Linked DNA regions of Homo sapiens. The protein of the gene in region 1 interacts with the protein of each later gene in a pairwise test. Each region holds a gene or a part of one and is shown in the gene's direction. Other genes may lie near its edges. The genes, in order: SCYL3 and EZR.

Region 1 (3,819 bases):
CAGCACTCTATCTCCAGAACAGAGGGATTAGCATTGTTGCTTTTACCCATGGTCCCACATAAACTTTTTATTTGTAGTCCCAGTAGAAAGGTGAATGTTACCATAGTTGCCATACTTGGCATTTCTTTTAGTACTGTTTTTTGCTTCTCTGTCATTTTTAAGAAAGATACATTGCCAGGTAGGTAGGAATTCAGTGAATTTGTTACAAAGCAGATTTAGTTCTTATTCTCAGCAACATTTTTAGATTTTGAAAATCTTCAATTTTAGATAGCTTTAGCCTTTATACATGTGTTTCTTATATAACGATGGTTGTGGATCGGTAGGCACTTTAAATTTTGTTCTAGGCATGTGTTTTGAGCAGCATTACATACCCAGTGTAGAAGGTGTTGTATGGAATTTCACCGAAGTGGGGAAAAATTCCAAGTAGAGGGTCAATGTGTAATGATTATTGAGTTTATATTTGTCCAAAGAATACAGATTTTAAACAAATTTTTAAAGGCCTACATAGAATTATTGGCCGTATTTGTAGCAGTTTGCTTTCTACATTGCCAGAGTTAGTAAGAACTCTATTTTCTAATTTTTATATTATGGTAAAGCCACCACTGAAAACTGACTGCCACAGATTTTTCAGACATACGTTGTTTGGCCTATATAGGTTTAGAAAACATTTGATTCAACATTGAAAAATATGGAGATTTCCACAAAACTATTCAGGCTCTTGGTTCCTCACGATAAGTGGCATGATCTGACAGTTCTGAAACTGCAGTCCTGGTTGGAACTCTGTGATAGCCACTGTCTTCAGAATGCAAGCCTCTCACAGTAGGTCCCATGCACGCACAGTAGGTCCCTCTGCCAGGCTGCCAGTACTGCTGGGGCACTGCACATTACCTGTTGTCACCCTGTGAGTTTGTATCCCTGTTGTCAAGAAAGCTGTTCATATTGTAGAAGATTTGGAAGGTGCAGGCAAGTGTGTGTGTATAAAATTACCTATAATCTGACCTTCCACTGGAAACCTCTGTTAATACTTCAACATATATTTTTCAAGTCTGTGTGTATGTATACATATATTTCTTTTCAAAACAACTTTGAGGCGTAATTGATACAGAATAAATGAAAAAAGTGTACAGTTTTATGTTTTGACATAATCACCCGTTACCATCATCATCATCAAGATAATGAATATATCCATCCTCCCAAAAGTTCCTCATACATCATGATAATCCTTTCCTCTCCCTTGATCCCTCTAACTGTGCCCCTTCACTAGGTGAGCACTGAAGTATTTTGTCATAGTTGCATTTGAATTCTGTGTATGTGTGGGCTTTTGTTTTTTTTTAGCAATTGAGATTATTTGAGATTCAGTTTTGCGGTTTCCCCTTTTTACTTAGGATAGCTTTGAAGAGTAGTGCGATCGTACTTTTTCTTATGTTTATCGTCATTTGTGTTTCTTCAATGAGTTGTCTGTTTTCTTTCCCATTATTGTACTGGTGTTTTAGTGTTTTACTTGGTTTATATGAGCTCTTCATTTGTTAATATGTTTTTCATCATATTAACAATGTTTTTCAACATATTAATATTAAAACCATGATTTTCCTCATTATAAGTATTCTCCAATTTGTATTGTTTTCCTTTATAATTTTAAGTTATTTTCTACATACAGAAGTTTTATTGTTTTTGAGTAATATTTTTACAACATTTTCCTTTGTGAGTGAGGATATACAAGTGAGTTAGGAAGTATGAATTACCTTATTCTATTTTTGATTGCCTTTCCACTCTGAAAGTTTGTATGTGGTGGAGTTTGGGGAGGGACAGTAACTACCTGTGACTATTTAGTAATGTGCATTTTCTCTAGAGCTGTTAGTTGTTAATTAACAACCATTGCTGGTAACTTGCAGAGCGTTTACCATTTTTACTGTCAAATGTCCTAGTTATGAGGATCAAAGAAACTAGTAGTTTGGGGTGGCTATGTCTGGATATCTCTTGTTGATGTTGCAGATAGGGATTTAATGTTTGAAATTGTTTTCTGTTTTCTTTTAGATCTGCTTGGCTTTGAGGAAGAGTGGCAGTACTGCCTCACTGCATAAGGGATGGGATCAGAGAACAGTGCTTTAAAGAGCTATACACTGAGAGAACCACCATTTACCTTACCCTCTGGACTTGCTGTTTATCCCGCTGTACTGCAAGATGGCAAATTTGCTTCAGTTTTTGTGTATAAGAGAGAAAATGAAGACAAGGTTAATAAAGCTGCCAAGGTACCATAATAGGTGACGACTTAATAGTTAGTACTTTTTACTATCTTGTTTTCTTTTAAAAAAATATGAAATTAGTAAAGTTCAAAGGAGGTAAGATCATAAGGACCAGTATTTTATTTATGTCCTTTCAAAACATTGCTCTTACTTCATGGGCCTATCTTCCATTTGCATGACATGGTCAGGTACCATACCTGTAGCCAAAAAACATCATAAAACTCAGTACAATGGCTTTTATCATCATATTTTATTTTTCTGGTGAGAAAGTTAGGGAGACATTTTTATGTAGCTAATATAAGATATAAGGAGCTATATAAGGAGTTAATCTCGTCTAGCAAAATGCAGTTAAGTATTGACATCATTCTGGAGGCTTCAGCTTCCTCCTTAGGGAAAAGATCCTTGTAGTTCATGCCTTATAATTGTTGCTCCAGGCAGAGGGTGCCAGTGCATTAGCATGCTGTCTGACACACTCAGGAGATCCTGGCCTCTTATCAGAAAAAATGATTTTACTGTGGAATGTAAGTCAATAAAATAACCCCAAGTGTCTTTTTGAATTAGGGAAAATGAAGGCATTAGTTGATGCTTCTTTGGATAGCTAGCACTTTGGAAATTTAGGAATTCAGATATATCATCTTCTAAAATGGAAAATGTAATTGTATTAGTAAATTAATTCTCCAGTGTTTATTCTGGTAGGCATGCTATTTTCAAGTTGAACTTGATATCTTGATTTTGTTAGAATTATAATCTCTATTACCTTGAGTCCCTTAGTTATCAACAGGTATGGAACATTGATGTCTGTTTCATAGGACTCTAAATTGTTTTTATTTTTTTAAAATGATTATAAAGGATTATATTAGTAATGGAATTTTGGTCTTCACAACAGTAATTTATTTGATGTTGTATTTTTGATCAAGCATGAAATTGTTATAAGATGGTTCCTAAAGAAAAAGATGGGTAACAGTTCTCTCGAGATGCGTGGTGGTAAAAAGTATATAGCTGGCTGTTTTCTTGCTAGGTAATTTTGCTTTTTGGTAGAACCACATTTTTGACTCTTTTTTTACATCATCTAGGTATTGTTAAGAATTTTTTATTGTGATTTTACAAAAGACAAAATGCCTTACTTCGCTTTCTTGTTCTTACAGTTAATGTCTAACATGCCTCCTGTTATTTTCATCTAATAAGATTGTGCATTTTTTTTAATAAACTATTATCGGCGAGGTACTAGAGACTTATCTTTCTTAGTATTTTTTTCTTTATAAGATTTTTTTAAAATTGTGTTACACTTTATGGTGCACGTACCAAGAAAATTGAATAACCTAGATCGAGTTTTTAAAGGAAAAAACAGCAAGACCACTCTCCATTTTTGAGGACTTCTGTGCTGAAGGAATTGCGAAGCTTGAGAGGGAAGACTTATTCCCCCTTAATATTCATAGATACCCTTTTAAGCCATGTCTGAGTCTTTGCACATAGTTCATCTTTGTCTCTTGTTAAGCCATTCTGTGGCTTTGAAAACCTCATATATGAATTTGGGAAATTTGAAATTGCAACAAAGTGATAACTTTAGATTCTCAGA
Region 2 (3,819 bases), on another chromosome or scaffold:
AATGGAACCCAGTCACCACGCTGGGATCTTCGAGGCCTTTGTCTCTGGGCGGTTGCTGTGGTGCTGAGCCTGTTGTCAGCCCTGGAGCGGCTGCTCCGTCAGGCAGCTCAGGCTGGCAGCAGGCTAGGGTGGCCCTCAGGATACCAAGTCCATCCTGGAGCTTCAAGTACCCGTGAAGTGTGTTGACCCCTCACTTTCCTGCCAGAGTCTAAATCTCCCTGTGCCTCTTTTTCCCTGCACCAGGCAACAGCTGGAAACAGAGAAGAAAAGGAGAGAAACCGTGGAGAGAGAGAAAGAGCAGATGATGCGCGAGAAGGAGGAGTTGATGCTGCGGCTGCAGGACTATGAGGAGAAGACAAAGAAGGCAGAGAGAGGTCAGGCGCCCTGGGGCTGGCACTCTACACTGGGTCATGCATTTCCACAGAGTAGCAGGGGCCACACCCACCCACCCACTCACCAGGAAGGAAACCAAGAACGTGTCCCACAGCGCAGACTCACAGCCGAAATGATAAAATGGTTATTTGGTTTGGAAAACAGTTCTGTACTTATTTAACTTTGATGCTAGTTGTTCTAAGACTTTGTATTTTAAAATTTCCCTAGTCTTTTGCGGTAAGTGCTCAATCACCCAGTTTCCCCGATGAGGACAGTAAGGTTTGGTGCGGTACAGTGATTTGCCCACAGTCCCCCAGCCCATGACTGACAGGGCCATGCTGCACTGCCCTCGACCTCTAGACTAAAACCCAAAGGCGTGTTCAGAGCCAGACTTCCCAGCACAGCTCCAGTCAACAACCCCAGCAGCTGGGCCGATTACACAAGGCGCCACAGATGCTGTATTCACTGGCAGCCCTTACAGCACACATGGGAAGGGTGTTCTGTGTTCTGAGTGGAGTGTGGACCACCAGCACAGCGGGCGGCTGACCTGGGGAGAGTAGCGCCAAGAGGGTTGAGTCAGGCATGCCAGAGAGAGGGCGCCTGGCTGGCGTTGGACGGGTTTCTAGCCATCTTGAGGAAGTTGTCATGGATACAGCAGCAATGAGCTCTGTGAAGTGCTTTCCTCCAGGGTCACTGGAAGACATCCCCTCAACCTGTGACTTGGTCTAGGGCTCTGTGGCTTTGGGGGTGGGAATGGAAAGCGAGGGCTCCTAGGTCCCTGGGCTGAGGGTTTGAATGGCTCTGGCTTTGTGTCTTTGCAGAGCTCTCGGAGCAGATTCAGAGGGCCCTGCAGCTGGAGGAGGAGAGGAAGCGGGCACAGGAGGAGGCCGAGCGCCTAGAGGCTGACCGTATGGCTGCACTGCGGGCTAAGGAGGAGCTGGAGAGACAGGCGGTGGATCAGATAAAGAGCCAGGAGCAGCTGGTAGGAATGGCCTGAGTTTCAAGATGCTGAATTATAGAGAGGCTGCTTCTGAGGATGGAAAATGTGACACCTGCCTTGTAATAATTGTCATGACTGGAAGCTGTAAACTGATCTGCTGGGGGGCTGAAGGCAGCTGGTGGGGAAGGGGCTGGGCTGTTGCCAGGGTCACCCATTGAAGGTGGGTGTGGGCATCCAGGAAGAGATGCCGGGGGTGCACAATGGACCCTGCTGGCCATGGAGTGGGGGTGGCGGGGACTCAGGTGTCACGTTGGAGACTGCTTGCCAACACACATGAACACTCATTCACAACTGGACTCCGTTGAAAGGATATCAGAACTGACGTGAGCTTGGCATTCCCTTCCCAGGCTGCGGAGCTTGCAGAATACACTGCCAAGATTGCCCTCCTGGAAGAGGCGCGGAGGCGCAAGGAGGATGAAGTTGAAGAGTGGCAGCACAGGGTGAGTCTGCACGGGGGACACCTCCGCACGGCCACAGCACCTGTTGCCCAATTGCCTGCGGTGGGGCCCTTCTGCAGGTGGGTGGGTTGGGGGAGAGGTCTGGCTCAAGCTGCCACATCCCACTGGAAGCTTCTGGGATGTCTCATGATCCTCTGCCAATACCAGCTGTACTACTGAAGTAGACATCCCCAAAGAGATGGGTTTGACTTTGTACACGAGTCAGTGCAGCTGCTGGATTCATAGAGGGAGGACCTCTGATTGACTTTCACCCACTTTGCTCCCTCCACCCCGAACTGTTCAGTGCTGATCTGACAGCCCCCGGTCAGGAACTGGTTTTAAATCTAATTATATATGTGCCCCTTGCAATGGGGTCGCAGTGCCTGAAACACGACCTCCTGCAGCTAGTATATACAGCGGGCACCATGGAAAGATCCAGCTCCTTGGACGTCTCCAGGCTGGAGTGAGAGCTGGGCTCTGCTGCTCATCAGCTATTTGGGGGCTAGTAGCATCACTTCTTCAAGCCTCATTTTCCTCATTGTAGAATGGGGGCAATACCCAACTCATAAGGTTGCTCTGCAGATGCGAGGTCCCATGCCCAGGACCTAGCACAGAGGTTTAGTCAGCTGTAGCTCTCATTGTGGGACGCACACAGAGCTTGTCGCTCCGTCTGGGATCCCCTGTGCCCTCCAGGAAGGCACAGCCCCTGAGAAGCTCTGGGGATGGTTCCCACTGGAGACTGCACACCAGGCTTTAAGCAGCTCCTCTCCTTCACAGACCCGCTGGCCCGTCCTTCCCCCACTGTGGCTTCTCCATCTGTGGAGGTGCCTTCTGGGGACGTGTCTCCCGGCTCTCCAGGGCTGCTGCTGCCTAGTACCTCCTTGCCTCTGTTCCAGCCCCCATTCCCGCTGCCGATCTGTATTAGGCTGTTCTCACAACGGCTATAAAGAACAAGCTGAGACTGGGTAGTTAAAGAAAAGAGGTTTAATTGACTCACAGTCCCACATGGCTGGGGGAGGCCTCAGGAAATTTACAATCGTGGCAGAAGGCGAAGGGGAAGCAGGCACCTCTTACATGAGGGCAGAAGAGAGAAAAGCAAAGGGGGGTAATGCCAAACACTGAAACCATCAGCTCTTGCTCAGAACCCACCCACTAGCACGAGAACAGCATAGGGGAAACCACCCCGTAATCCAGTCACCTCCCACCAGGTAATGCCCCCCACCCCCAGCATGGGGGGATTACAGGTGGAGATGAGATTTGGGTGGGGACACAGCCATATCACCATCCCAAGTTGCAAGCGGAAGACTTTGGTTCTTAGGTTTTTGGAGAAAGTACCTGTTAAGTGAGGAGAGCTGGCTACAAAGCAGATCCACACTAAGCTCAACTCTAGGGCTGGCTGGGATGGAGGCGGGCGGGACTGGGTGTGTGTGAAGCTGTTGGAAGGACTGCAAGTGGCGAGCAGGAGAGCACTTGATAATGACTGTGGCATGAAGGGAGGCTAGGAACAGAGCCCGTTACTCATGCTAACAGGATTTTTTTTCTAAAAATTATATAATGTCTAGAGTTACAGGTAAAAAAAGAAATGGTAGTTTTAAAACTGCCCAGGTTCCGGCATCACAGTTCCTCTTCCTGTCTTGGACGCAGAGGGTTGTAAACCCCCCATGCACCCTGAGGGTGCTCCTCTTCGAAGCCACAGCCCAGCACAGTTCAGTGCTGCCTTAGCCTGCCAGGACAGAGGGAGGTGACAGTCTGTTCTCATAGCCAGGAGGATAGGACTTCTGGGTGAGAAGTCCTCTTATTAATTTGCTTTCCAAAGGCCAAAGAAGCCCAGGATGACCTGGTGAAGACCAAGGAGGAGCTGCACCTGGTGATGACAGCACCCCCGCCCCCACCACCCCCCGTGTACGAGCCGGTGAGCTACCATGTCCAGGAGAGCTTGCAGGATGAGGGCGCAGAGCCCACGGGCTACAGCGCGGAGCTGTCTAGTGAGGGCATCCGGGATGACCGCAA

What was found.
Region 2: the proteins of SCYL3 (region 1) and EZR interact in binary tests that used the Homo sapiens proteins (3 or more experiments, as listed by UniProt).

Annotation. Positions count from the first base shown.
Region 1 is NC_000001.11:169,887,106-169,890,924, reverse strand, and holds part of SCYL3 (protein-associating with the carboxyl-terminal domain of ezrin), read left to right. Parts: intron 1-2,034; 5' UTR 2,035-2,084; coding exon 2,085-2,249; exon of another isoform or gene 2,250-2,275; intron 2,276-3,819. UniProt on the Homo sapiens protein: May play a role in regulating cell adhesion/migration complexes in migrating cells.
Region 2 is NC_000006.12:158,767,319-158,771,137, reverse strand, and holds part of EZR (ezrin), read left to right. Parts: intron 1-243; coding exon 244-374; intron 375-1,193; coding exon 1,194-1,354; intron 1,355-1,719; coding exon 1,720-1,812; intron 1,813-3,625; coding exon 3,626-3,819. UniProt on the Homo sapiens protein: Probably involved in connections of major cytoskeletal structures to the plasma membrane. In epithelial cells, required for the formation of microvilli and membrane ruffles on the apical pole. Along with PLEKHG6, required for normal macropinocytosis.